Homo sapiens: one gene and its partners. The protein of the gene in region 2 purifies or fractionates together with the protein of the main gene of each other region. This does not show direct contact. Each region holds a gene or a part of one and is shown on either strand. Other genes may lie near its edges. The genes, in order: KDM8, UNC5CL, NUMBL, CHORDC1, LRRC41 and FLVCR1.

Region 1 (4,888 bases), on a different chromosome or scaffold from region 2:
AAGCAGATCACCCTGAGGTCAGGAGTTCAAAACCAGCCTGGGCAACAGAGTGAAACCCCGTCTCTACTAAAAATAGAAAAACTAGCCAGGCACAGTGGCGGGCACCTGTAATCCCAGCTACTCAGAAGGCAGAGGCAGGAGAATTGCTTGAACTTGAGAGGCAGAGGTTGCAGTGAGGCGGGATCGCACCATTGCACTCCAGCCTGAGTGACAGAAAGACTCTGTCTCAAAAAAAATAAAAATAAAAAAACCTTCTGTGATCAACAAGAGGTCTTTGAAGGCCAATACCTGTTGAGCTCTGGGAGACTGATTTGTAAAGTGAAGATACGAGGCCACTCAGGCTTTTTGATATGGCCCACATTTGGGTTACGGTAGGTGTCAGTTTGCCTAGAATAACACCAGTTTTTTACTGATGCAGACATAAATATTAATAGCATCTTGGTTTGGATGACCCACCTATACCTGGCCACTAGAAGGCTATCTGTACAACTCCCAATAAACCCTTTTATGTAGAGCTCTCGAAGGCCAGTCTGTGGCACCACTCTCAAAGACTGCTTCACACATCTTTTTTCTTCTTGCAGGGAACTGGCAAGTCACACATCTTATTCTTGACTCCCTCCTTTGGAAGCCTGTTTGTTTAATGTAAGCCTTTTGTGTGCGTGTGCTTTTTTTTTTTTTCGGGAGGGACAGACTCTTGCTCTGTCACCCAAGCTGGAGTGCAGTGGCTAGATCTCAGCTCACCCCAACCTCTGCCTCCCAGGTTCAAGCAATTCTCCTACCTCAGCCTCCCGAGTAGCTGGGATTATAGGCGTGGACCACCACGCTGGCTAATTTTTGTATTTTTATTAGAGATGGGTTTTCACCATGTTGGCCAGGCTGGTCTCGAGCTCCTGACCTCAGGTCATCCACCCTCCTCAGCCTCCCAAAGTGCTAGGATGACAGGCGTGAGCGATGCACGTGGCCTTAATATAAGACTTTATAAACAGCAATTCAGTGAGGAGTTCTGGGAAGCCAATCAATAAAGCCAGGCCATAAGGCTACTCTGGCTAGTCCTTTCCTCTAGAAAACCTCTTGATACAACAAGAAGCCTTTTTATCAGACCAGTATATGGGAAATGCCAGAAGGCTGATGAGCCTGGACCTGAGGCCATTCAGAAAGGCAGTGACCTGTGGCTCGCACCTGACCTTCCCAGGAGGGCCATCTCAAGTGGTTGGTGGTGTGAAGGCTGCTTCTCATAGCCCATGAGGCCAGTGACCCTGGAAGATTGTTTCATACAGCCAGCAAGAGAGTGTTTCCCCAGCCAGACCAAGACTCCTTCTGTAAGGCCATTTTGCATGGCTAACAGGAGCCAATGTGAGGCTGCTCCCAGCGGGGTAGATGGACACAACAAACAATTCTTTCCTGGCACAATGAAGAAACCACAGATCGATTTGTAAAACTAAGACAAAATCTGACTTCACCTGGTCCTCAGACAAGCCCCCATCTATAGGAAGGCCAGTTTTTAAAACAAGTTACAAGGGCCGGGCGTGGTGGCTCACACCTGTAATCCCGGCACTTTAGGAGGCTGAGGTGGGTGGATCACTTGTGGTCAGGAGTTGGAGACCAGCCTGGCCAACATGGCGAAACCCCGTCTCTACTAAAAATACAAAAATTAGTCGGGCGTGATGGCATGCGTGCCTGTGGTCCCAGCTACTCAGAGGCTGAGGCAGGAGAATCACTTGAACCTGGGAGGTGGAGTTTGCAGTGAGCCGAGATCGCATCACTGCACTCCAGACTGGGTGACAGAGCAAGACTCCATCTCACAAAACTGCTTTGGAAGACTGCTTCCTATACCAGGATGTGGCTGTTTGATATGGTAACTACATAAAAGGCCAAATCATGAGAGGTTTGGGGAAGCCTATGCAACAAGGCAGAAGACTGATGCGGCCAGAATGCCACTTCACCATGCTGCCAACATAAGGCCTTGTAGGAGGCTATAGTTTTATTTTTTGAAACAGGGTCTCACTCTGTCACCCAGATGGGAGTGCAGAGGCACAAACACAGTTCACTTGCAGCCTTAAACTCCTGAGCTCAAGCAATCTTCCTGCTTCAGCTCCCGGAGTAGCTGGGGCTACAGGTGTGTGCCACCATGACCAGCTAACTAATTTTTTAATTGTTTTTAGAGACAGGGTCTTTACATGTTGCCCAGGCTGGTCTCGAATTCTTGGGCTCAAGCAGTCCTCCTGTTTCAGACTCCCGAGTAGCTGGGATTATAGGTGCCCTGCTGGGGGATAGTGTATAATAATCTTGAGGCCTTTGGGGAGGCCATTTCAAGTGGCTTATACAGAGGCAATCTGAAAAGCCATTTTGAAAACAAACTTATACAGCCATCCTGAAGCCTCTGTCTCTGGAAAACCATCATATATTGTCAACGTAAGTATCTCTGAAGGCCTTTTGATAAGGCCGTTCATTGAAGAACTCTGCATTAAAGAATAATCATAAGGCTATTTCATGTGGCCAAGAGCAGATAGTTTTGTACAGCCAACTCACAGTATTAGGAGGCCATCTTTCCCAGAAGGCTGTGTCCATTGGCCTTCAACATGAGGTCTCCAAGGCCGATTTGCAAAGTAGCAGATAGGCCGCCTATGAAGACCAAACATGAGGCCACCCTGGGAGGCCAGGTGACAAAGCAGACACGGGGCCACTGGGGGAACCTGGCTACAAAGCCGCACACGTGAGGCCACCTTGAGAAGCTGGCTTGGTAAGGCTGATAGGCGCCCTGTGAGGGGCCGTTTTATAAGGTCACCCTGAAACACCAATTTACAAAGCCCGTAATCTGCATTGCAGAGAACAGGTTTATAGCCCATTTGAAACCCTCTGGGAGGCTGTTTTCTAAGGCCATCAAGAGACAGGTTTACAAAGCTGGTACATAGAGCCCCAGTGGAAGCCAGTTTTATAGTAGGGCAATAAATGGTCTCCTGGGAGGCCTTTCCACTGGCCTTTATGAGAAGCCAGGATATGAGGCCCCTGAGGTCTTTTGGATGCTCAAGATGAGACTTCTCCATGTTGCTCTATAAGATTCATGTAAGCCACACACGGGATGAGCCAGGAGGCCACCCAGGGAGGCCAGGGATGGGCCCATGTGGTGTCTTGTGCTGGCCTAGTGGATAAGTCCATGCTGGAAATTGGACTGTGAAACGCTCCAAGAAGGCTGTGAATGAGGCCAACACAAGCCTTCTAGGAGGCTAGAGATAGAACCCACCCTGGCAGGCTGGGGCTCTCTGAGCCCTACCATACCCTGAGCTTGCTAGAAAGAAAGTTCATTGTGAACCAAGAATGGAAATGAACTCATTATAAGCTCAGCCCTGTGGATACAAAGTCCAAAGAGCTCACCCTTGAAGGCAATGAGTGTTCTGGGCAGACACTGCCACTTACTGTGTAGTTTGGCACAAATTGCTTAACCTCGAAATCTCAGTTTATTCATCTGTAAAACTCCCATCATAGGATTGCAAGGGACGTGTTAATCTATGTCAAGCATGCAGCATTGACATGGCGCACAGGAGAGGGTGCTGAGATCAGCCAGAATTTAAGCCCTGCTTCTGCACAAATGATTGACCGTAGGCCTTGGGGCAAGTCACTTCATTTTTGTTTTTTTGTTTTAATTTGAGTCAGGATCTTGCTCTGTCACCCAGGCTGGTGGCATGATCTCGGCTTACTGCAACCTTTGCCCCCAGGCTTAAGTGATCCCACCACCTTTAATCTCCTGAGTAGCTGGGACCACAGGCATGTACCGCCGTGCCCAACTAATTTTTGTATTTTTTGTAGAGACGGCGTCTTGCCATGTTGGCCAGGCTGGTCTTGAATTCCTGAGCTCAAGTGATCCAATTGCCTCGGCCTCCCAAAGTGCTGGGATTACAGGCGTGAGCCACCATGCCGGCCTTCTCGAATACTTTTCAAAGCCTGGCACTCCTGAGTGACTGCCATGAGGCAGACTCTGCTTTTAGGCTCTGGGAAACGTAGGGGAATGAGCTACGTTCTTGCCCTGGTGGAGCTGGCAGTGCAGTGTTGGATAGACACACGTGTAAGCAGGTGTTTTCATACATCCTGACGAGTACTGTAAGAGAAGCTCAAGGGCTGCAGGAACACAGAACACTGTTGGAGAGTCTTGGCAGGCCTCACATAGGGATATTTAAGATGGGCTTTAAAGGTTGGGTAGGAGTTTGCCAGGCAGCGGAGGGGTATGGGAGGCACTGCAGATGAGGACAATACACGTTCCTTTCTGAACAGACGTTTATCCAGTGCTTGCTGAGTACCAGGTGTTGCGCCAGGCCCTGAAGATACAGTGGTGACCCCAGACAGATGAGGGCCCTCCCCTCCAGAGCTTCTGCCCAACAGAGAAGACTGCTGTTGAAAAATCCTCGCAGATGAGATGCAGGAAGCTGCGGGAATGCACAGGGGATCAGGTCTGTCCTGGTGTCTAACTCTTGTTTCTCTCCACCTCCCCAGGCACGGGACTGAACCAGCTGGTGGTGGCCCGATGGCTGGAGACACCCACTGCCCCGCAGAGCCCCTGGCCAGAGAAGGCACTTTATGGGAGGCCCTCAGGGCGCTCCTGCCGCACAGTAAAGAAGACCTGAAGTTGGACCTCGGGGAGAAAGTGGAGAGGAGCGTGGTGACATTGTTGCAGCGAGCCACTGAGCTCTTCTACGAGGGCAGGAGGGACGAGTGTCTGCAGAGCAGCGAGGTGATCCTGGACTACTCCTGGGAGAAGCTCAACACGGGCACATGGCAGGACGTAGACAAAGACTGGCGCCGGGTCTACGCCATCGGCTGCCTCCTGAAAGCCCTGTGTCTGTGCCAGGCACCTGAGGATGCCAACACTGTGGCCGCAGCCCTGCGGGTCTGTGAC
Region 2 (4,888 bases):
AAGGAGCGGAAGGGGCACTTTCCATGCCAGATGTGGAGATGGGGAACCAGCTGGCAACTGCTGTCATCCACATTCTCCCAACCTGGTGAGTAGGCAGACAGCAGAGGGCCTCAGAGAGTGGGGCCTTAAACAAGTATTGAAGGGGGCTGTGGGGAGGCATGAGGACAGAACAAAGGCAGGAGGGTCTCAAGGGAATGGGAATCCCCAGAGCCTGGGCTGGGACCCCAAGAGGGCCCTTGCACTATAAAAGCCTTCCATCCTTTCCTGCTTCTGTGGGGTATAACCCCTCTCCTTCCCACCTGCCACCTGGCATCACCCTGTCCAAGGAGTGAGTGGCAAGGGCTCAGTAGACAGCAGAGTGGTCAAAGCCCTGGGGGCTCCATGAGGCTACTGCTGGCCCAGAGGTCACAAACAGACTTGGGGCCTGGTGTGGTGGCTCACACCTATAATCCCAACACTTTCAGAGGCCGAGACGGGTAGATTACTTGAGGTCAGGGGTTCGAGACCAGCCTGGACAACATGATGAAACCCCGTCTCTACCAAAAATACAAAAAAATTAGCCAGGCATGGTGGTGGGCACCTGTAATTGCAGCTACTCAGGAGACTGAGGCAGGAGAATAACTTGAACCCAGGAGGCGGAGGTTGCTGTGAGCCAAGATCAAGCCACTGCACTCCGGCCTGGGCAACAGAGCGAAACTCCATCTCGGGAAAAAAAAAGAGAGAGAGACTTGGGATCCCCAGATCTCCAGATGTCCAGGGGAGGCCCAGAACCCTTCATTCCTGTGGGGCTCCCGATCATCCTATCCCACAGGCCACTGCCTCCCTCACCCTCTGAGATGTACGTGAGCTTCAGGCACTGGTCGCCCCTAGCCCCATTGAAGTCGAAGAGCTGGCAGGGCCCACGCAGGCGCCCACCATGGGGCTGCTCGTTGGTCAGTGCCCACTGCAGGGCGCAGGGCGTGTTGTTGAGGAAGTAGATACGCAGTTGCAGATGGGACTGTCCTGGCACCAGCGGTGAGCAGAATACGGCCAGCTGCAGCCATTTGCGGGCTTCGCGCCCCACAGGTGCCTCCAGCACACAGGTGTAGAGGCTGCAGAGGGAGCCAGTGGCAGGCACTAATGTGCAGGGAAGGCTAAGACACCAACACACTGCCACCAGCCTCCTGCCACCTGAGGGGCCTCTGTGGGGCCTTCAAGGAGGTTCAGAGAACACTCGAGGGGAGCACTTAGGGAGGAACTGGTAGGTTGGGGATGAAAAGTGAGCATGTCACAGTGACTGGTGACTGAATGGGGAGGAGAGCTGGCAGGGGAGAGAGGGAAAGTGGGCTCAGGGTGACCATGCTTGGGAGGGCACCCGCACATGGCCCTATTCCTGTCAATGGGTGGCAAGGAGGCTGGGAGGCAGAGGACCTAGGACTCTAGAAAGACAAAGAGAAGAAGGACAGAGATGGAATGGAGTCTTAGAGAACTGGTGCTAAGCCTGGGGACAGTCCTGAAAGGGGCACAGTGTAGAGAGAGATAATTTGAAAGACAGAGAGAGATGGGAAAGACAGGTCCCTCTTAGATGGAGAGATGGTGCTGAGTCAGACACTTCCAGACAGACAGAGAGACAGCAATGGGATTTGCAGTCATGGACATGATTGATGTGAGAAAAACTGCTACAAACATTAGGACAGAGGGGCCAGAAAGAGACACCAGGGGATAAAGGATTTGCAGACCATCTTCTATACAGAGAGATGAAGATAAGGCAGACAGAGAAAGTGGGCAGGAAAGACAGTCCTCAGAGAGATGGGTGTGGGAAGACAGGCCAATGGCATGTGCCTACCTGAAGTGGGAGAGGTGGATGCGACACTCATCCCGGGAGGCGTGGGCCCCCGGCCGCCCCAGGGGCCTCCATACCTTGGCATCCAGCAGGGTAGTGTTGCTGCTGTAGGTGCGAGCATGGCTGGGCTGCTCGGCACAGTGTTTGAACGTGAGAGTGCAAGGCTTCAGGAAGGAGGCCCCATGGGGGCCACATGCCACCACAGGGCTTACCAGCCCCTGGGCTTGGGACAGCGATGGGGCGTCCGACAGGTCCCACACCAGGATCAAAGACACCCGCTCCTGGCGGCCCACAGCCACAGCACCTGGCAGGGAGAGGGAGAGCTGAGATGGGCCTGGTAGGCAGGCACACCCCTGCCCCTGAAAGAGGCCAGGCCAGAGAGAAAGGAGGTGGGGCAGGAGCCCAGGAGAGACCCCCAGCAGGGCACACAGGGAAGTGGTATGAACAAGAGTAAGACGACTGTGGAGCTGACTTGTAGTGTAACCCTAAGCAAGACACTTCCCTTTCCACCCAGGCTGCTGCTAGCCCATAGTGTGCCTTGTGTGAATTTGCAAATGGTGCTCTTCCCTCCCTTTACTAGAGAATTGTCACAGCATACTGATTCATTAGAACAAGGCACTTTACTTCCACCTGCCAGGAAGTTGTCCCAAAAGATATGTAATATGTCCATCCCTGAAGTCAATAAAGCTATACTCAAAATATAAACAATTATCAGAAGTAAAAGGTGTCTATGAACATTGCTCCCTCAGATGTGGTGACCTAATGTACAGTCTGACCAACTGTATGCGGAGATGAGAGCCAGGAGCTGTTACCTGGTGGGATGAGCAAGGAGATGCCTGTATCCTGGAGCATCAGGCAACCGCCGCGGTGATCCACCTCTCGAGCCGAAAACACCAACAGTTTGTGCATCAACTGGCGGACCATGGTCTGGCCTTGAGTGGGTGTGTGTAGCTCCTGGTAGAAGGCAACCATCTCTGGCAGTGTGGCTGGCAGGTGCTGCCTTGAGACCTCATTTTCTAGTTGGGGGGTAGGCTGGGACACTGGTTCCTCTTGACCATTCAGTGTCCAGCAGGCCCCCAGCAGCCTTCTAGGGCAGTGCCATCGAAGGCATTGGGCCAGAAGGAGGACACTTGCCACTGGGACCCCCACCAGCAGTAGGAACTGGGAGGGTTGGAATGAACTCTCCTGGGGGCACATTCGCCTGGTTACTCAATGCCGCTGGCTCTCCTTCACCCCTGTGCCAGCCAAAGCCAAAGGCCTGGTGGGGAAGAAGGGGTCAGTGTCAGGGTAAGCCCTTTTAAGTTGTGGAGGTCAAGGCTTGGCTTACACATAGCTGCAAGTTGTCTTCATTCCAGCGCACACTGCACACTTTAGTCACACCAATTCTTTTAACCTGTCTCTCTTACTCGAGAACCTACCCTGGCTCCCCGTGACCTAATACATCAAGGTAAACTGTTCTGAAGCAGAGTGAGCTTGGGTTTACAGTTAGAGAACATGAGTTCAAATGTCACCTTGGTCACTGTGGCTGGGTAAACTTATCATATTGATGTAAGGCAGGAGAGCCCCAAAATTGGGGCTTAGTTTGGGAGGGTTTGTGGCTTCACCTAGGCAAGAATTCAAGGGTGAGCCAGTGGTGTCAGACAGCAACTTTCACTAAAGTGGCAGAGTATAGCAGCAGCAGAGGTATGCTCCTTACAGAGCAGAGCTAACCCTAGGCAGTGTGCCCAGGGTAGCAGCTCTGGGGCATTTCTGCCATCATATTTATGTCCACTTTTAATTACATGCAGTAAGGGGTGGGTTATTCAGAAATTTCTAGAAAAAGGAGTGGTAGCTTCGGGTCACTGCCATGGAAAGGGGCAGTAACTTCCAGGCATCGCCATGGCAGTGGTAAACTGTCATGGCACTGGTGGGCATGTCTTATGGAGAGGTGCTTTTGGTGCCTTTTCCCTGTTTCAGCCAGTTTTCTATCTGGCCTGGAATCAAATCCCACCTCCTGCCTCAATACTGCTTAATGTACCTCAGTTTCCTCATCTGTCCAAATATCTACCTTGATCTACAAGTGCTGATACAAAAAAATCTATAAGTGGAAAAAGCAAGTCGCAGAGAGATAAAATATTCTGAGCTCATTAATGTGAAAAACAAAACTGCATATAAATAGATACATATTTATGGGTGCATATATGGAAATGTAAAGGTATAGAGAAAGGTCTGGAGCAGTGGTGTACAATAAAAATGTAATGTGAACTACACATGTAATTTTAAATTTCCTGATGGCCACATTAAAAAGAACAGGAGAAATTAATACATTTTATTTAACCCAATATATTCAAAATGTTATTTCAACAGGTAATCGATATAAAATTATGAGATATTTTTACTTTCTTCCTTCATACCCAGTCTTTGAAATCCATGTGTAATTTATATGAACAGAACAGCTCACTTGGGACTGGCTGTATTTCAAGTGCCCAGTAGCCACGTGTACTAATGAATCCGGTCTTAGACTGTGCAGGTCTGGAAGGACACACCCCCAAACTATTCCCATGAGTCACAACAAATTGAGAAGGTGGAAGGTGTGAATAAAAACTTTGTATTTTTTTAAATCCTTTTCTCTGTACTTTGAATTTTTCACATCAAGCATGTAGTTTGTATTAACTTTGTAATTCTTTTCTGAAGCTATTAAAAGTGGGGAAAAAGTGCCTCTTTGTGTAATGGTGAGGATGGCATAAGGTCATGTGAAAAGTATTTGTAGATGAGAAAGCACTGTCCAAATGTATGTGTTTCTTTATGCCCCTCCTTCTGCCAGAAAGGCCTGAAGGTAGCTCACAGGGATAGGCAACATACAACAAGAACAACAAAAGCTAAAAGTGGAAGCAAAAAAAAAAAAAAATGAAGAAGACAAAACACAAAGATGCAGCCCTACAGTGAAGCTGGAATGAGGCAGGGCAAAAGCATACACTCACCTCCTGCTCACCTGGCTACCCAGCCAGGCCACAGGCTGAGACTTCCCAGTAGCTCTTCCTGAGGCCCTCCAGAACCCACCTCCGCCTCCTCCTACTTCCCCTCTTC
Region 3 (4,888 bases), on a different chromosome or scaffold from region 2:
GCCCCATGGTTCTGAATCCCCAGTGCCCAACTTTCGCACTCCCCTGGCTTCTGTTGGCTCCTTTCCTCACTGTCCCCTGACTTGAGCTGCTGATCCCATGTGCGCTGCCAACTGACCCTGTAACCCCGCTTCCAGTTATCTTGTTATCTGACCCCATGCTCCCTGAGCACTGGTCCCTCCCCGTTGAGCTCCATACCTTCTGACCCCCACCCTTGACCCACATCACTGTCCTGTGTCACCAGACGGGGCGGGCACCATGAACAAGTTACGGCAGAGCCTGCGGCGGAGGAAGCCAGCCTACGTGCCCGAGGCGTCGCGCCCGCACCAGTGGCAGGCAGACGAGGACGCGGTGCGGAAGGGCACGTGCAGCTTCCCGGTCAGGGTGAGTGGGCGCGGCAGGGTGCGGCGGGGCGAGGGGGACGGGGGCCGCTGTGCTGTGCTGTGCGGGTGCGCGGCCTGGCTGGGACACCAGCCCAAGTCGTTTGAAGTTGGTGTTAAAAAGCGTGAGGCCGGCAGTCCTGGCTATCACGGTGAAACCCCGGCTCTACTAGAAATACAACAAATTAGCCTCGCGTGGTGGCGGGCGCCTGTAGTCCCAGCTACTGGGGAGGCTGAGACAGGAGAATCGCTTGAACCCGGGAGGCGGAGATTGCAGTGAGCCGAGATAGCGCCATTGCACTCCAGCCTGGGCGACAGAGCAGACTCTGTTTCAAAAAAAAAAAAAAAAAAACTTGAAGCGTAGTGGTGGCTAACACCTGTAATTCCAGCACACTGGGAGGCTGTGGTGGGAGGATTGCTTGAGTCAAGGAGTTCAAGACCAGCCTGGGCAAACACAGGGAGACCCTGTCTCTACAAAAAATAGGCACAGTGGCACGCACCTGTAGTCCCAGCTACTCACAAGGCTGAGGTGGGAGGCTCACTCGAGTCCAGGAAGGTCGAGGCTGCAGTGAGCCTTAATTGTGCCATTGCACTCCAGCCTAGGCAACAGAGTGATACCCAATCTTGAAAACAAACAAAAAACCAGAACACATTTTTTTGTACCAGCAAACTATTACCTGGAAGCCGTCATGTGGTGTAGCATTTGCAAAGCGCTCTACCGATAAGGACGTTCTGGTTTAGCCATACCCTACGCTTTTACATTCCTGTGAGGGGGAGAGCAGGATTCACGGCGTGGACTGTGGAGCTCAGCCCCTTCCTGGCTGGGTGATGACTGACCATGGTCACAGCCCCTCCACCACCTTACGTTCCCTTCCCTGGAAGCAGACTTTGAATGTGACGGCTTCATTTGGGAGGTGCAGGAAATGGTGTTGGGAGTGAGGAAAGTAAGGCAGCCAGTAAAGGGTGTGTTATTAAAACTGCAGCAGTGTGCAACTGAGCTTTCCCCTGGGAAACTCGAGGCAACAGTCATCCCACCTGCAGATGAGGGAGCTGGGGCTCAGGTACCCTAACTCCCTTCAGTCATTGTGGGGACTGGCCCAGGCTCTTTCTAGCTGCTTTAGGGTAGGCAAAGCAGCTTTGCATGGCCTGTGGCCAGTCCTCACGCACAGAGATGCAAATACTAGCTCTCGGGAGGACCACGGTGCCGGGTTAGGGCCCAGGGGTATAGCTAGACTGGAATCACTACTACGTGCTGTGCTTCAGTTTCCCCATCTGCATGTCTAGACCAGGAATGGGGTCTCCACCTTGTAGAGTTGAGATGCAGAATAAATGATTGCATACACATCATGTGCTTAAAATATTGTCTACTGCATGGCAGATGCTCAGTGGACACTGAGAATGAGTGATTACTGTGCTGTTTCATGTCCCCCCCCCCATTCCCTCCAACCCAAGTACCTGGGTCACGTGGAGGTAGAGGAGTCCCGGGGAATGCACGTGTGTGAAGATGCGGTGAAGAAGCTGAAGGCGGTGAGTGAGGGGGCTGCCATGAGGGAGGGGGCAAGGTCAGACAGGGAGAGGCACCCTGACCCGGCTCCTTTGTCCCCTTGCCTCCCTCCAGATGGGCCGAAAGTCCGTGAAGTCTGTCCTGTGGGTGTCAGCCGATGGGCTCCGAGTGGTGGACGACAAAACCAAGGTAGGAGGCCTGTGGGGGTGGACGCCAGGGGGCCTGTCTGCTCACCCTGCTGGAATCAGGGCGGAGGACACCTTCCCGCCTCCTCTGCACATCCCTCCCTCAGGGACCTTCTAGACGATGCCGTGTGCTCCCTCTGTCGTCATAACTCAGGAATAAATGCTGTGATTATTTGGGAACTGGCATAGGCTGTGGGTGAGAGAGACTGGAGCAGCTGCCTCAGCTCCGATCCCAGCTTAGGGACCCTGGGCATGAGATTTAACCTCTCTGAGTCTCAGTTGTGTCATCTGAAAAATGCAGATTATAGGCCGGGAGTGGTGGCTCACGCCTGTAATCCCAGTACTTTGGGAGGCCAAGGAGGGTAGATTACCTGAGGTCAGGAGTTCGAGACCAGCCTGGCAATATGGTGAAACCTCATCTCACTAAAAATACAAAAATTAGCTGGACATGGTGGTGTGTACCTGTAATCCTAGCTACTTGGGAGGCTGAGGCAGGAGAATCTCTTGAACCCGAGACTTGGAGGTTGCGGTGAGCGGAGATCATGCCATTGCACTCCAGCCTGGGCAACAAGAGCTAAACTCCATCGCAGAAAAACAGGGATTATAATAGACCCTACCATTAAGTGAGAAAGCATATGCAAGTTATTTGAAATGGTGCCTGGCTGGGAGGGCCCCTTGAAGCCAGGAGTTCAAGATCAGCCTGTGAAACATAGCAAGGCTCCATCTATACAAAATAATTTTTAAAAAAATTTAAATGTGGGCTGGGCACGGTGGCTCACGCCTGTAATCCCAGCACTTTGGGAGGCCAGGGCAGTTGGATCACCTGAGGTCACGAGTTCGAGACTAGCCTGGCCAAGATGGTGAAACCCCACCTCTACTAAAAATACAAAAATTAGCCAGACGTGGTGGTGCGTGCCTGTAATCCCAGCTACTTGGGAGGCTTAGGTAGGAGAATCACTTGAACCCAGGAGGCAGAGGTTTCAGTAAGCCAAGATCATGCCACTGCACTCTAGCCTGGGTGACAGAGCAAGACTCCTTCTGGGAAAAAAATATATATATATATTTAAATGGGGTCTAGTACATCGTAACTGCTCAGATCAATGAATGTTAGCCATTAAGTGTTTATTGTCACCCTGCCCAGTCAGAAGGAAGCACTATGAGGCCACAATCTAGGTATCTGTTTGCTCACCTTGAATCTGCTGCCCCCAGCCCAGAGACTGCCCTAGGAGGTGCCCAGGACATGCTGAGAGTTGGGTTAATAACAGAACAAGATCACCACCTTTGCAAGGCAGTTCCCTCAGCCCAAAATACTGTTCCTTGACTTTTTTTCTTAGTTAGTACCTGCTCCAGGAAGCCTTGCCTGACTGACCCCAAGCTGGCTTCTGCCATGCTGGCCCTGACCCCTCTGCCTGTGCCTCCATGGTCCTGGCCCTGACCCCTCTGCCTGGGCCTCCTTCATCACATCCTGGCTATGACTCTGGGCTGCCCATCTCGTGATGGGTCTGATCTTCCCGCTGACCTGGGAGCCCTCTGCAGGCAAGGCACAGGGTGTCTCAGTGACTGCTGGGTCCCCACCCTGTTCAGGACTGGATTTCAGCAGACACAGAGAGAATGTTGAGTGAACACTTGAAAGAGAGTTCACACTCTTCTCCTGGCCTCCCCGGCCCCTCCTAGGATCTTCTGGTCGACCAGACCATCGAAAAGGTCTCCTTTTGTGCTCCTGACCGCAACCTGGACAAGGCTTTCTCCTATATCTGTCGTGACGGGACTACCCGCCGCTGGATCTGCCACTGTTTTCTGGCACTGAAGGACTCCGTGAGTATTGCCACAGCTGGCCAACTCTTCCCTCCCATGCCCTGGCATCCCAGCCCCACCCCTACAAGCTTCCTGCATTCAGGCACATCACTAACCTCTGTGTGCCCAGTTTCCTCATCTGGAGAAGAAAGTATACTCACGGTTCCCAATTTAGAGTATTCACGTGAGGGCCGGGTGCAGTGGCTCACACCTGTAATCCCAGCACTTTGGGATGCTGGGGCGGGGGGATTGCCTGAGCTCAGGAGTTCAAGACCACCCTGGACAACATGGTAAAACCCCATCTCTACTGAAATACAAAAAATTAGCTAGGTGTGGTGGTGCACACCTGTAGTCCCAGCTACTTGGGAGGCTGAGGCAGGAGAATCACTTGAGCCCGGGAGGTGGAGGTTGCAGTGAGCCAAAATTGCACCACTGCACTCCAGCCTGGGAGACAGAGTGAGACTCCATCTCAAAAAAAAAAGAGTATTGGCCAGGCGTGGTGGCTCACGCCTGTAATCCCAACACTTTGGGAGGCCAAGGCAGGCAGATCACCTGAGGTCAGGAATTTGAGACCAGCCTGGCCAACCTGGTAAAACCCCATCTCTACTAAAAATACAAAAAAAGTAGACAGGCATGGTGGCAGGCGCCTGTGATCCCAGCTACTCCAGAGGCTGAGGTAGGAGAATCACATGTGGGGAGAATCACATGAACCCTGGAGACGGAGGTTGCAGTGAGCCAAGACTGCACCACTGCACTCCAGCCTGGGTGACAGAGCGAGACTCTGTCTCAAGAAAACAAAAAAAAAAAACTATTTGGGGATGAGAATGAAAGCCAGAAAAGAGCAGGACCATCTCCTGTGGGTAAAGAATGTGATGTTGGATGAATTCCTTCCTACTTCTGAAGGAAGTTTTAACCATTAAGCAGTAGAATTCCCCAAGTTCAACTTTTTTTTTTTCTTGAGGTGAAATTCACATAAAATTAATCATTTAAAAGTGTACAATTCAATGGCATTTAATACATTTTCAGT
Region 4 (4,888 bases), on a different chromosome or scaffold from region 2:
CTATAAGAGAAAAAGTTTTACTGTCTTAATCATGTACTAAATTATGTCAGATACTGTGATACACACATGTAAAATACAATACAGGCCAGCTGTTCCCAAATGCCAATCTGGATTCTATGCTAGTCTTCAGTACAATGAGAAAAGGAAAGATAAATTTAAGTTATGTGAATATAAGGTTGCTAGTTGTCTTTTTTCAGCAAGATTGTCCTTTTCTCTGAATATGCCCCTTCTAATATTAAAATAGTATTTCTTTTGTCAATGCAATGTTTAACTTCTTACTTGGTCAACTAGTATCCCTGTATTGATGTATACGCATTTTGTCTGAAATCTTCTGGACTGTGAAATCCAATAATCTTGGAAAGTCTAGGACTTTAAGAAATGGTTATAAAATAGAGACCACAATAAACACTACAACTGCAAAAGAGAGAGAAGCAAAAATACTTCAAAGTGAATTCATTAAGACTTGGAGTGATTAACAATGCGGTAAGAGAAAAAACGGGCAATGGACCAAATGATCAGAAAGTCAGTAGTATCATTACTAGGAGCAGTAAAGTTGAGAGGCAGACTACTTTTGGAATAAACGGTACACACTAGAAACTGGTTTGATGTTGCCAATGAGACACATAAATAGAAATATGTTGTAAGAGCCATCGGCGTAGAGGTGACATTTGAGAAAACCAATGAATGAACTGAATGAGAGAAAACAGCCAAAGGTTACCTTTAAGAGCTAAGAGGAAAACAGCATAGGGAAAAAAAGAAAAAGACACAGTAAAACAAAAATATCAGAAGAAATGGCAGTCTAGGAAAAATAAAATTCCACAAAAAGAAAAATAAACATTTCCACAGCACCACAGTTTCCACCACAACAAAGATTTGTAAAAACTAAAAAAATGTATGGAGGAATAAGGTCTCAACTTGCCCTACTGAATGTCTTCTCTGTTTTCCTCACTCAGAACTAACCAGACTAATACATCTTTTGTTAGATTTGGTGGTGTTAACAGTGAAGTGCCAAAACAGTCTAACTACTCTTTGGAAGGTATAATTAGACATTTAAAGGGCACCAACAATATTTAAACATGTTAAGACTGCTTATGTTCCTGAGAACCAAAGAAGTAGAACCTAAAACCATGGCAGCCCTACCACAGCATCATCTTTTGAGATATACAAAGGAAACTCTTTAAATGTATCATACTATCATGAATTTTAAAAAGATGACCAGCAAAAACCTAGTCAAACAACATTCCACCAATTCTCCAGAACATCCAAGAAGTATAGCTGGAAAACTCACAGGTCTGTCCCGAGATTGGCACTAAATGTTTATAAGAATCTTTTCTAAAATTCAGAGCTGTTATTAGCCAGTAGTGACAGACTGAGATTCAATACAACCACTCTATTTTCCCTCAAAATTAGAAAAGTGAAGAAATGGGTGTAGAAAATGAAAATTAAGACCAGGCATGGTAATCCCAGCACTTTGGGAGGCTGAGGCAGGTGGATCATCTGAGGTCAGGAGTTCGAGACCAGCCTGACCAATATGATGAAACCCTGTCTCCACTAAAAATACAAAAATTAGCTGGGCATGGTGGCAGGTGCCTGTAATCCCGGCTCCTCAGGAGGCTGAGGCAGAATCGCTTGAACCCAGGAGGCGGACGTTGCAGTGAGCTGAGATCGCACCACTGCACTCCACCTGGGCAACACAGTGAAACTCCATCTCAAAAAAAAAAAAAAAAACCCAGAATTAAAATACAATTTTATAACTGGAAAAGACCTTAAGATCATCATCTACTGTCTTTTCTTTGTCTTTAGTGGAGTATACGCTTAAAGCACCTCCCCCGCAAAGGTCATTAAGAAGAAAGTCACTAGCTGAGAAAAAAAGATGAGAAAATAAAGATTTAGTATTACATCTCTCAATTTACTACACAGATATGAAAAAAATGAAAATATAGTTCCTACCTTTAATGCATCGTGAAAGACCGGAACACCTGGGTGGTATGTGCAAGCATCTGGAGAAAACAGAGAAAAAAAAAAAAGTACCACTCTTTATAATGAAGAAAAATATATACATGATCATCTCCTTAAGGTGTTAACCTTTAATCCTTTTTCCAAACGCAAGTACCTTAAAAAGGTACAAATGATTGAGTTTGACGTGCAGCACAAAGTGTACTATATTAAAATAGTATTAAAAATTCTAATTCAAGCATATGATGACTAAGGACAAAAATACAGAATTGTTTATGTATAACAATTATATTTTATATTCCCCTAATCTTGGTAGTAAAATTTGTTTAGTACCAAAACTTCAAACCCCCAAATTTTGACCATCATTTTTCAAACCTGCTTTTACAAATGTACTATCAAACTTGAAGTATTCTTATGTGCATTCATCCATAAAGGTTTCACAAGAGATTCCCTTAAAGACATTTTGTAATAACAGGCTCAACATTTTAAATACTGTAAAGATTTTTTGCAGTATCTAATTGGTAATTTAACTTTCCTAGACACAGTCATTCCTAGGTACAAACCTCACTAAAAAGAAGACTAGGGTGCCTCTGCCTGGCCCCTGCCCTGTTTGGGAAGTGAGGAGCTCCTCTGCCCTGCCCCCGCCCAGTCTGGGAACTGAGGAGTGCCTCTGCCTGGCGGCAGCCCTGTCTGGAAAGTGAGGAGCACCTCTGCCTGGCCACTGTGCAACCTTCCAAGTGTGAAGTGACAGCCTTGTGTGTGATCTTTCTGCCTTCCCCAAGTGTGCATTTTCAACATTAAAGTTTACTTTTTAATTAAAAAAAAAAAAAAAAATAGAAGTCTAGGTGGGCCTGGTGGCTCATGCCTGTAATCCCAGCACTTTGGGAGGCTGAGGTAGGCAGATCACCTGAGGTCAGGAGTACGAGACCAGCCTAACCAACATGGTGAAACCCCGTGTCTACTAAAAATACAAAAATTAGCCGGGCGTGGTAGTGCATGCCTGTAGTCTCAGCTACTCAGGATCTTGACAGGAGAATCGCTTGAACTTGGGAAGCAGAGTTTGCAGTGAGTCAAGATCATGCCACCGCACTACAGCCTAGGTGACAGAGCAAGACTCCATCTTAAAAAAAACAAACAAAAAAAACTCTCAAGTTCTACAGCCTATTTTCTAGATTCTCACTGGGTGTTATTCTATACTTCCCTCCCCACTACACCATCAATCTTTACTTCTCTTATGTAAATGGGTTTATTACAATTTGTGTTGGGAACAGGCCCCCAAATCTGGCCATAAACTGGCCCCAAAACTGGCCATCAACAAAATCTCTGCAGCACTGTGACATGCTCGTGACGGCTTTGATGCCCAGGCTAGAAGGTTGTGAGTCTACCTGAATGAGGGCAAGGAACAACTGTCCCACCCAGGGCGGAAAAACACTTAAGGCATTCTTAAACCACAAACAATAGCATGAGCCATATGTGCCTTAAGGACATGTTCATGCTGCAGATAACTAGCCAGAGCCCATCCCTTTATTTCCCGTAAGGAATACTTTTAGTAAATCTCCATTGGAGGCTCTCAGCTCTAAGGCTGTGAGACCCCTGATTTCCCACTCCTTACTATATATTTCTGTGTGTGTGTCTTTAATTCCTCTAGCACCACCGGGTTAGGGTCTCCACGACCAAGCTGCTCTCAGCAATTTGCAAGATGGAGTACTATATTTTTAAAAATCAGGTAACAGTCAGCTTCATCCCTCTGCAATCTGCTTAAAAGACTATCTTTCAACCTTTCAAGTCTATTTAGCTTTCAATGCTCTACAACAACCTTGTCCAACATGCCGCCCCAGACAACTCTGAATGTAGCCCAACACAAATTTCGTAAACTGTCTTAAAACATTATGAATTTTGTTTTTGTTTTCTTTTAAGCTCATCAGCTATCATTAGTGTTAGTGTATTTCATATGTGACCCAATTATTCTTCTTCCAATGTGGCCCAGATAATTCCTCTTCTTCCAATGTCGCACAGGGAAGCCAAAAGATTGAACACCCTTGCTCTATCACCTGATTCCTGGTGTTGCCTCAAAATTTACTACTGGTGCTCACAGAAATCTCCCTACCCCGTTACTAGCCAGTATTGCTTCCTTAGTAACCATGTGCTGCATAGATACTAGCTAATGTAGAAAGTGTTAGGTATCTTCCTGATACAGTAAGTAAATCCGTGGGATCAGAAAGATGTTATTAATTAAGGGTAGTTGTGGAATTAAGGGCTGAAAAAGGAGGTTGGAAGTAGAAATGGGTATGCAGAAGGACATGAAGTTGAGAGGGGAATGGAAGTAGAGAATAGATCCAGTATTTTCAAACACCAAATTTAAAGTAGTCAGAAACATAAACGCAATGTATAACAGAGTCAGAGGCATAAAATGTCACAATAAGTCAATTTTGGCAGCATGGCAGCAGGAATGAGTCAGATCTGAACCATACAACTAACATGAACACAATTAGAAAGCCACTGCTTTCAAAAACAAGAAGTAACAAGCAAATGGACATTCTTCATTCTTTCTTTAATATCCATCCTTTCTTTATCAGTTTTAAGAGTTTTGGCAAAATTAATATTTTATGGGTGAGAAGCTACAAGACAGTAGCAGTGGTTAAGTGTCCAGGGCTTCTAACATTGGGTCTGACCCTGGCTAAATTTCTCACTGAGCTACTCGCTAGTAGTTCCTTCAGTTTTCCTCGTATACGTCGATTAAAAAAAATACCGTTTGTGAAGCTGTGTTTATTCTAGAATAAGTGTTTAACATATGTAAGTTACCAACTGTGTCTCCCTTAAACACCCTTTAACTTCAGTTACAAGTTAAAACGTTCTATCAGCTTAAAAGGGAGTCTAATTTCTGTCTCTAGGGGGAAAAAAAAATCATGAGACTATAAGTCAACGAGCACGG
Region 5 (4,043 bases), on a different chromosome or scaffold from region 2:
TTCTTCTACCTCTCTGATTACTCATTATACTGACAAATCTCTAACTATAAAATTTTAGCCCAGATCTCTTACCTGAGCTCTAAATCCCTATTTCTACCACTTAATCTACATTTCCACTTAGATTTCTAATGAGCACTTTAGAAGTATCATGACTAAACTCATTCCCCTTCCTTCTGATTGATTAACTGATTGATTTTGAGACACTTTCTTTCTGTTGCCTAAGCTGGAGTATAGTGGCACGATCATGGACCACTGCAGCTTCAACCTCCCACCTCAACCCCCTGAAGTAGCTGGGGCTACAGGTGTGTGCCACCACACCCGGATAACTTTTTTTCTTTATTTTTTGTAGAGAAGGGGTCTTGCTATGTTGCCTAGGCTGGTCTCGAACATCTGGACTCAAGCGATCCACCTTGGCCTTCCCAAGTGCTGGGATTAACGGCATGAGCCACCACACCTGGCTCCCCTTCTGAATGTTGTTCTTAATGGCTCCATTATCCACCCAACCCAAAACTGGGAATAATCTTACTGGACTATTCTTTTCTCCTAATAACCAGATTCCCACCAGTTTTCACTGATTTTTACCTTCTTGAAATTTCCTTAATCTAACCTTGCTCTCCAAGCCCTCCTGAGGTCATGGTCATCTGTCACTTGGATATTGCAGCAGCTTCCTAATTGTTTACTTCTGTCTTATCCCAACCCATTGTTCACATACTGCTTCCAGAAGGAGCTTTCCAAAAATTCAGATTTTATTTTTCGTCTCTTCGAAGACAAGATTAAGGCCTTCAGCATGGCATCCAAGGTTTGTTTTTTGTTTTTTGAGATGGAGTCTTGCTCTTGCTGCCCAGGCTGGAGTGCAATGGCACCATCTCAGCTCACTGCAACCTCTGCTTCCCGGGTTCAAGCGATTCTCCTGCTTCTCCTGAGTAGCTGGGATTACAGGTGCCCACCACTACCCCTGGCTAATTTTTGTATTTTTAGTAGAGACAGGGTTTTGCCATGTTGGTCAGGCTGGTCTCGAACTCCTGACTTTGTGATCTGCCTGCCTCGGCCTCCAAAATTGCAGGGATTACAGGCGTGAGCCACCGTGCCTGTCCCCAAGGTTCTTTAATGTGGCCTCTGCTGACTTCCCAGTCTCAGCTCTTACTATACTCCCACCAACCTCCAGTTAGCCTGAACTACTCACAGTCCTCCAATAGGCCAGTAGTATTCCTTTGTTCCTATGCTGGGAATACCTTTCTTTGTGTCTTTTCTTACAAACCATCTACTCATTTTCAAGATTGAGCTCAAGGATAGAGTTTCAAGTTTTCAATACTGTTCTACTCTACCATCCTTATGGACTCGCAGTTACCCTGTATAGATTTCTATCATTGTATCAACTGTTTAAATGTTTGTCTAGGAGCTAAAGGATAGGGGATATATATGATTCTTTTTTGTATGCTAATGTCAGCACAGGGTCTGGAATAGAATAGATACCTAAATGATATTTATTGAATGAGTTAGAGTTGGGCTTGGTGCAGAAATCTGAAGCTGCAGCAGACAAACCTCAGTTCACCCTGACGGGATTTAGCCAGGCCCTGGGACCCTTCATTAGTATAGAAAGTAGCCTGGGTGGGCAGACTATTCATGTCATGTTCTCAGGAGACAGACTGGGAAAATGGACCTCAGCTGAGTAGAGATAATGTTCTGGGACTCATACTTTTTATTCATCTCCTCTTCTCGGGTAGCTGTAGTTTCAACCCTTTGGTTTTCCTGCTCCCTTTTTATGAGGATGGCTAAGCGCTGTATCTTTTGACATTCCCCACCTCCTCTTCCCCAGGCAGGGACCATTGAGGAGAAGATCTTCCAGCGTCAGAGCCACAAGAAGGCACTGAGCAGCTGTGTGGTGGATGAGGAGCAGGATGTAGAGCGCCACTTCTCTCTGGGCGAGTTGAAGGAGCTGTTTATCCTGGATGAAGCTAGCCTCAGTGACACACATGACAGGTGGGGAAGTGCCCTAACCATTATCTCTAAGCTACCCACACAGTAGGGAGATGGGATCTGTAGTGACTTCAGCTGTGCCTTCTGTCCCTAGGTTGCACTGCCGACGTTGTGTCAACAGCCGTCAGATCCGGCCACCCCCTGATGGTTCTGACTGCACTTCAGACCTGGCAGGGTGGAACCACTGCACTGATAAGTGGGGGCTCCGGGATGAGGTACTCCAGGCTGCCTGGGATGCTGCCTCCACTGCCATCACCTTCGTCTTCCACCAGCGTTCTCATGAGGAGCAGCGGGGCCTCCGCTGATAACCAGCTGGTCTGGGTGTAGCTCTTAGAGGAAGGAGATAGGGAAAAGGGGCTCCTTGCTCCACAGGGCCCTGTTGAATTTTGTTCTCTGGGAGAAAATCATCAAGAAGGGCTGCATGATGTTTGCCCAAAATTTATTTTATAAGAAAAACTTTTTTGGTTAAAAAAAAGAATAAAGGTATGAAAGGGTTTGAGGCCTGAGAGCAGTGTGGTAAGCCCAGCAGGGAAGAAGCCCCCTATACTTCTCTAAAGCCTGGGTGCCTGCTTGAGGAGGGAAGGCAGGAACCCAGGGGCAGGGGAGGGGATCTCTTCAGCAATTATGATGACCACTGTAACCTCCTGGCCCAGGGTTCCCAGGATACTGAGTAAGGGGCCCAAAGACTATAAACCCAGCTGTGAGAATGCCTGTTTGCTGGGCCTCATCAAGGCCTCCAGGACCTCAGTGCAAGGGAAGAAGGAAAAAAGAGAAAAAAGGTGACAGAAAGAGAAAGATAGAACTGGTGGTTGGGGTTCTGGGCAGCCCATGCTTCAGCCCCTGCAAGCTGATGGTACCGAGCATGAGACTGTGAGGTACGGGCCCCATCACATGGTGCTAACATAATCTGCGAAGGCCTGGGATGAGTCCCATGAGTCGCTAACCACATGGCAGGTAGCCCGGAGCCGCCGGATGGCTTCCCTGGCTGTGACTGCATCCTGGTCCAGCCAGTTTTGGAAGAGGCGCAGGTGACCAAAGGCTCCACGGCCCCAGCGCTCCAGCCGCTTGGCGAACTCCAGAAGCCCATCTGGCTTGATGCAGTTGGAACTGGTAGGGTGAGATGGATTAGATATCCAGGAAGCAGTGAATTCCTGGTCTATATCTCTGTAGCCCCATCCCTTGTCTTGCCCCTCCCCTCATGTACCTGATGTCCAGCTGACAGAGAGAGGAGGATGAATCCTCTGAGAAAACATCTGCCAAGGCCAGCAGGCCAGCATTCCCTGGAGAGAAGGGGAGAACGCCTATCACCTCCACCCAAGAACAGGGGACAAGGGTATCCCAACCCAACTATGGCTGGCAGAACCAGCCCTGCTGGTTCCTGAAGCCCCAGCACAGAAATATCTGTATTCCAACTCCCACGTTCCCAGTGGAGAGGTCTTTGCCTTTATCCAGTGAGTTTTTAGGTCAAAGGCCTAGCTCCTTTCCCCTCTCCCTCCCCAGGGTCTGGCCCCCACCCAGGCGGTTCCCTGGCAGCCGGAGGCCCTTCAGTGTGGAGTTGCCCTTCATAGCAGCAACCATCTCAGGCAGAAATTGGGCTGGGCGCTTCTCAAACAGACGGCAGAAGGAGAAGGTAATCTCTGTCAAGAAAAATTATAGTAAATTCTGATGGCTGCATTAGGACTGGTGCTGCCCCTCCTGCCCCAGTTGGCCCTAGCAAGGGGTATTAACATTATAGAGGCCCAAAAAGAGGAAGGAATTTGTCTAGACTCCAAGCAAGGCTGGAACTAAATCAGAATCCAAACTAAAGACTGAACCTAAATGTTCCCTATAAGAAGGTTCTCTGCATGGACAATTCTCCATTCACTTCCTTCTTTCCCTAACACTGGCCACCCTCTATGCGGGGGTGGGGATCAGAGAAAAGTCTATGAGGGGAGCCTGGCACAGTACATTTATTTTGCCCCACCACCACCATTTTGTCCACCTCTGAAAGGTAAGAGCAACTTTTGGGTGAAGCACTCTAAAAGAGCGATTTCTCATGTTTAGTAGAGGAGGAATTGAGGTTGGGG
Region 6 (4,888 bases), on a different chromosome or scaffold from region 2:
TAGCTGGGATTACAGGCGCCTGCCACTGCGCTAATTTTTGTATTTTTAGTAGAGATGGGGTTTCACCATCTTGGCCAGGCTGGTTTTGAACTCCTGACTTTGTGATCCACCTGCCTTGGCCTCCCAAAGTGCTGAGATTACAGGCATGAGCCACAGCACTGCGCCTGGCCTTTTTTTTTTTTTTTTTTTTTTTTTTTTTTTTTAGTAGAGATGGGGTTTTACCATGTTGGCCAGGCTGGTCTTGAACTCCTGACCTCAGGTGATCCACACGCTTCAGCCTCCCAAAGTGCTGGGATTACAGGCGTGAGCCACCACGCCCAGCCTAAATATTTCTTTATAGCAATGCAAGGATGGCCTAACACACTGCCTAAATCAAAATTGCTATTCACTTCAAGGGTATTCATTACCTGACTAGCTTTTTTGGGTGCATATGAACATAATGTAAATTTTATGGCTGATCAAATGTCATTACTATGAAGATACTCCCTATGAGCTCACAGAGTCAGGACATCAACAATATTTAAACTCTCACTGTAAACATGACACAGTGGTAGGCACTGTGGAAATATATTTGGTCCTATTTTCCCTACCTGAGCATGTAAAAGAGCAGACTATTCTAACAGTGTGATGACTCTGCAGTGAAGAAAAGAATCCACTCTCCCGGCACACTGATAGAGCATGTACCTGGGCATAGTATTCCTCAAAGGAGAATGGTCATAAAAATGATACTGCAGAATTCAAATAGCATTCAAGAGGTCTCCACTAAATGGGGACATGTAGGCTATCTGAAGTTATTATAGATTTCCTTATTTCAGGAATCTTCAAGGCAAAATATACGATGTGATACATGAAATCATGAAATAGCCAGTAACATACATGATGAAATTATCTTACTAGAAAGTTACACATCAGGAAAAAAAAAAAAAGAGAGTTTAAAAGAAAAAAAAGGCAATGGGTACAAAACTACTCTATCTCAAGTTGGAGTGAAAAAATACAGCGTTAGCATTTATCCATGATAGAAAGGCAGCACAGAAAAGAACTCAAGACAGAATGAACCTGTAACCAGGCTCCTTAATTAGAACATAATTCTAAGACCAAAGTCTGGGTAGAATCTGTACACAGAATAGTTTTTATAGCCATTGACTGCATGTGTTAAAAAGTACTTTGTAACAAGAGTACAATAAATGGGAAAAATCTTAGAGGTCATCTGAAAGCCTGATCCCAATGCTGTCCTTTGTGGGTGAGTAGTGTCATGTTGGTATGTTGTACTCAAACTGAAGTGGCTTGAACAGCTGGTCAGCACAGTGAAAAAGGCAGCCAATTAGGAATATATTGTACATTTAGTTCCACTGGATACTTTAATATATAAACTGCATGAACTATTATATCTTATGGGGACTGAACACCCCATATTATCACTTTAAAAAGTATTCTAAGCTTCCATTTTCTACAAAAAAGAAAAACATCGACTTTTAAAAAGTAAACGTCAAGAAGCTTACTTTCAGATACAATATGAGACTAAAAACCGGATACTAATTAGATAAACAGTAGTGTTAACATGATGTAAACAGAAGAATTTTAAGAAAATTTCCCTTAATTTAACAATTAAGCAAAATAATAATTATGCATTTAGAGTTCATATGGTAATTTTCAAGTAAGTGTGTTTATTCCCCCACCACATACAAACCCAGCCTTGGTGCTCACATCTCTCTCCAAGGATGATCACATTGTCCCCAATTACTACAGGACAGTAACTTTGCCTTTCTCTTCAAATTGCTGATTCTGACTGCTTGGACAACATAACCGTTTTTGGTTCTTGGTCTGTGGGACTGTCAGCTGGTATCTATAAAAACAATCAGAAGATTAAAAATGTATAGCATCTGGCATATCCTATTATAACAGATCAACAGTTGACTCGGGAGAAAAATAGCTAAATAAAAAAATATGGTTTCACATTTATTCTATACATACTTCTCAACAGTATAATCATAAAAATATTACTTACAGCTTTAACATCAACATTTGTAATTCCTATATTTATGTTGTGTCTTCGCAGATCAGACTTGATTAATGCTGAAACAGAGGGGCATCAAGTTACTATAAACTGTTATGTGAAGATTTTTTTAAAAAGCAGCTCAAAGTCTTTCTTGGTATTGTCAAATTTAATGCACTGTAGTGTCATGATATTTAATAGCATCCCAACAGCCTAAAAAATAATAGTACCTCTCTAAAGTTGTTAACAATTAATAAGTCATTCATTATTGAACAAATACGGGAATGCTAGCAACCAATGATACAAAAATGAAAAGTGTAATTCTTTTTCTTAAAGGACTCTCCAATCTAGGGAAACTTTGACATGTAAACAAGTATAACAGTGTGTGATAATTGCAAGGTATGGTGGGGAAGTGGGAGCAAAAAAAGTCTATGTCAGCCAAAGGAAATTAGAGAAGGCTTTCCAGAGAAGACATACTTGATACTGGAAAAAACTGAGTAATAACTTGTCAAGCAGACAAGAGGAGAGGAAGGCATTCTAGGCAGAAGGGAATGCAGGTATATCTCAGAGACATTGTGGGTTCAGCTCCAGATCACCACAAAAGAGTGAATATTGCTGGGCGTGGTGGGTCATGCCTGTAATCCCAGCACTTTGGGAGGCCGAGGTGGGTGGATCACAAGGTCAGAAGATCGAGACCATCCCGGCCAACACGGTGAAACTCCATCTCTACTAAAAACACAAAAAATTAGCCAGGCGTGGCGGCACGCACCTGTAGTCCCAACTACTAGGGAGGCTGAGACAGAAGAATCACTTGAACCTGGGAGGTGGAGGTTGCAGTGAGCAGAGATCGCACCACTGCACATATTTTTTGGTTTTCCAGTGCATAAAAAGTTATGTTTATACTATACTGTAGTCTATTTAAAGTTTGCAATAGCATTATGTCTAAAAAAAAAAATCAATCTACATGCCTTAATTTAAAAACACTTTACTGGCCAGGCTCAGTGGCTCATGCCTGTAATCCTAGCACTTTGAGAGGCCGAGGCGGGTGGATCACTTGAGGTCAGGAGTTCGAGACCAGCCTAGCCAACATAGTGAAACCCCCATCTCTACTAAAATACAAAAATTAGCTGGTTGTGGTGGTGGGCATCTGTAATCCCAGCTACTCAGGAGGCTGAGGCAGGAGAATCACTTGAACCCAGGAGGCAGAGGTTGCAGTGAGCCCAGATGGCGCCATTCCACTCCAGCCTGGGCAACAAGAGCGAAACTCCATCTCAAAAAAACAAAACAAAACAAAAAACACTTTACTGCTAAAAAATGCTAATGATTATCCAAGCCTTCTGCAAGTTATCTTTTTGCTGGTGGAGGGTCTTGCCTTGATGTTGATGGCTGCTGACAGATCAGGGTGGTGGTTGCTAAAAGGTGGGAGCGGCTGTGGCAATTTCTTAAAGTAAGACAGTGACGAAGTTTGCCGTATTAATCAACTCTTCCTTTCATGAAAGATCTCTCTGTGTGCAATACTTGTTTGATAACATTTTACCCACAAAACTTCCTCAAAACAGGAGTTGATCCTCTCAAACCCTGCCACTGCTTCATCAGCTAAGTTTATATAATATTCTAAATCCTTTGTTGTCATTTCAACATTTACAGCATCTTTACTAGTAGATTCCAACTCAAGAAAACACTTTCTTTGCTTATCCATAAGAAGCAACCCAGCCAGGCGCAGTGGCTGACACCTGTAATCCCAGCACTTTGGGAGGCCGAGGCAGGCAGATCACAAGGTCAGGAAATCAAAACCATCCTGGCTAACATGGTGAAACCCCGTCTCTACAAAAAATACAAAAAATTAGCCGGGCGTGGTGGCGGGCACCTGTAGTCCCAGCTACTCAGGAGGCTGAGGCAGGAGAATGGCCTGAACCCGGGAGGCAGAGCTTGCTGTGAGCCGAGATCACGCCACTGCACTCCAGCCTGGGCAACACAGCAACATTCCGGCACCCCCCCCCAAAAAAAAAGAAGCAACCCTTCATTTCTTCAGGTTTTACCATAAGATGCAGCAATTCAGTTACCTCTTCATATTCCACTTCTAATTCCAGTTCTCTTGTTATTCCCACCACATCTGCAGCTATTTCCTCCACTGAAGTCTTGAACACCTCAAAATCATCCATGAGAATGGGAATTAACTTCCTCCAAACTCCTGTTAATGTTGATAGTTTGACCTCCTCCCATGAATCAAGAATGTTCTTAATGGCATCTAGGATGGTGCATCCTTTCCAGAAAGTTCTCAATTTACTTTGCTCAGATCCAAGAGAGGAATAATTATTTCTGGCAGCTACAGCCTTTTGAAGTGTATTTCTTAAAGAATAAGACTTGAAAGTTGAAATTACTCCTTGATCCACGGGCTGCAGAAGGGATGCTGTGTTTCCAGACATGAAAGCAACATTGATCTCCTCGTACATCTTCATCAGAGCTCTTGGGTAAACAGGTGAATTGGTCAATGAGCAGTAGTATTTTGAAAGGAATGTTTTTCTCAGTAGCAGGCTTCAACAATGGGTTTAAAATATTCAGCAAACCATGCTACTAACAGATGTACTATCAACTACGGGGTTCAGGTTCATTGTTCCATTGTTAGAGCTTAGGCAGAGAAAATTTGGCCTAATTCTTAAGGGCCCTAGGATTTTCAGAATGGTCAACAAGCATTAGTTTCAATGTGAAGTCACCAGCTGCATCAACCCCTCACAAGAGAATGAGCTTGTCCTTTGAAGCCAGACATTGATTCCTCCTCTCTAGCTATGGCAGTCCTAGATGGCATCTTCTTCCAGTATAAGCCTGTTTCATCTACATGGAAAATTTGTGGTTTATTGTAGCCACCTTCATCAATCATCTTAGCTAGATCTTCTG

The links.
Region 1: the proteins of UNC5CL (region 2) and KDM8 purify together in Homo sapiens (affinity purification with mass spectrometry; 2 studies listed by BioGRID and IntAct, with this or other methods). This does not show direct contact.
Region 3: the proteins of UNC5CL (region 2) and NUMBL purify together in Homo sapiens (affinity purification with mass spectrometry; 2 studies listed by BioGRID and IntAct, with this or other methods). This does not show direct contact.
Region 4: the proteins of UNC5CL (region 2) and CHORDC1 purify together in Homo sapiens (affinity purification with mass spectrometry; 2 studies listed by BioGRID and IntAct, with this or other methods). This does not show direct contact.
Region 5: the proteins of UNC5CL (region 2) and LRRC41 purify together in Homo sapiens (affinity purification with mass spectrometry; 2 studies listed by BioGRID and IntAct, with this or other methods). This does not show direct contact.
Region 6: the proteins of UNC5CL (region 2) and FLVCR1 purify together in Homo sapiens (affinity purification with mass spectrometry; 2 studies listed by BioGRID and IntAct, with this or other methods). This does not show direct contact.

Annotation. Positions count from the first base shown.
Region 1 is NC_000016.10:27,205,608-27,210,495, forward strand, and holds part of KDM8 (bifunctional peptidase and arginyl-hydroxylase JMJD5), read left to right. Parts: intron 1-4,485; coding exon of another isoform or gene 4,486-4,516; coding exon 4,517-4,888. UniProt on the Homo sapiens protein: Bifunctional enzyme that acts both as an endopeptidase and 2-oxoglutarate-dependent monooxygenase.
Region 2 is NC_000006.12:41,032,056-41,036,943, forward strand, and holds part of UNC5CL (UNC5C-like protein), read right to left. Parts: intron 3,081-4,888; 5' UTR 3,020-3,080; coding exon 2,635-3,019; intron 2,127-2,634; coding exon 1,826-2,126; intron 1,092-1,825; coding exon 829-1,091; intron 83-828; coding exon 1-82.
Region 3 is NC_000019.10:40,679,911-40,684,798, reverse strand, and holds part of NUMBL (numb-like protein), read left to right. Parts: intron 1-242; coding exon 243-382; intron 383-1,830; coding exon 1,831-1,905; intron 1,906-1,996; coding exon 1,997-2,071; intron 2,072-3,741; coding exon 3,742-3,882; intron 3,883-4,888. UniProt on the Homo sapiens protein: Plays a role in the process of neurogenesis. Required throughout embryonic neurogenesis to maintain neural progenitor cells, also called radial glial cells (RGCs), by allowing their daughter cells to choose progenitor over neuronal cell fate.
Region 4 is NC_000011.10:90,216,185-90,221,072, forward strand, and holds part of CHORDC1 (cysteine and histidine-rich domain-containing protein 1), read right to left. Parts: intron 2,001-4,888; coding exon 1,951-2,000; intron 1-1,950. UniProt on the Homo sapiens protein: Regulates centrosome duplication, probably by inhibiting the kinase activity of ROCK2. Proposed to act as co-chaperone for HSP90. May play a role in the regulation of NOD1 via a HSP90 chaperone complex. In vitro, has intrinsic chaperone activity.
Region 5 is NC_000001.11:46,276,001-46,280,043, forward strand, and holds the end of LRRC41 (leucine-rich repeat-containing protein 41), read right to left. Parts: intron 3,615-4,043; coding exon 3,492-3,614; coding exon of another isoform or gene 3,442-3,491; exon of another isoform or gene 3,264-3,441; intron 3,258-3,263; coding exon 3,182-3,257; intron 3,085-3,181; coding exon 2,865-3,084; 3' UTR 2,283-2,864; coding exon of another isoform or gene 2,072-2,282; 3' UTR 1,981-2,071; coding exon of another isoform or gene 1,817-1,980; 3' UTR 1,462-1,816; downstream 1-1,461. Other genes in the region: RAD54L (DNA repair and recombination protein RAD54-like), read left to right, coding at 1,817-1,980, 2,072-2,282. UniProt on the Homo sapiens protein: Probable substrate recognition component of an ECS (Elongin BC-CUL2/5-SOCS-box protein) E3 ubiquitin ligase complex which mediates the ubiquitination and subsequent proteasomal degradation of target proteins.
Region 6 is NC_000001.11:212,892,171-212,897,058, reverse strand, and holds part of FLVCR1 (choline/ethanolamine transporter FLVCR1), read right to left. Parts: intron 2,074-4,888; coding exon 2,006-2,073; intron 1,844-2,005; coding exon 1,769-1,843; 3' UTR 1-1,768.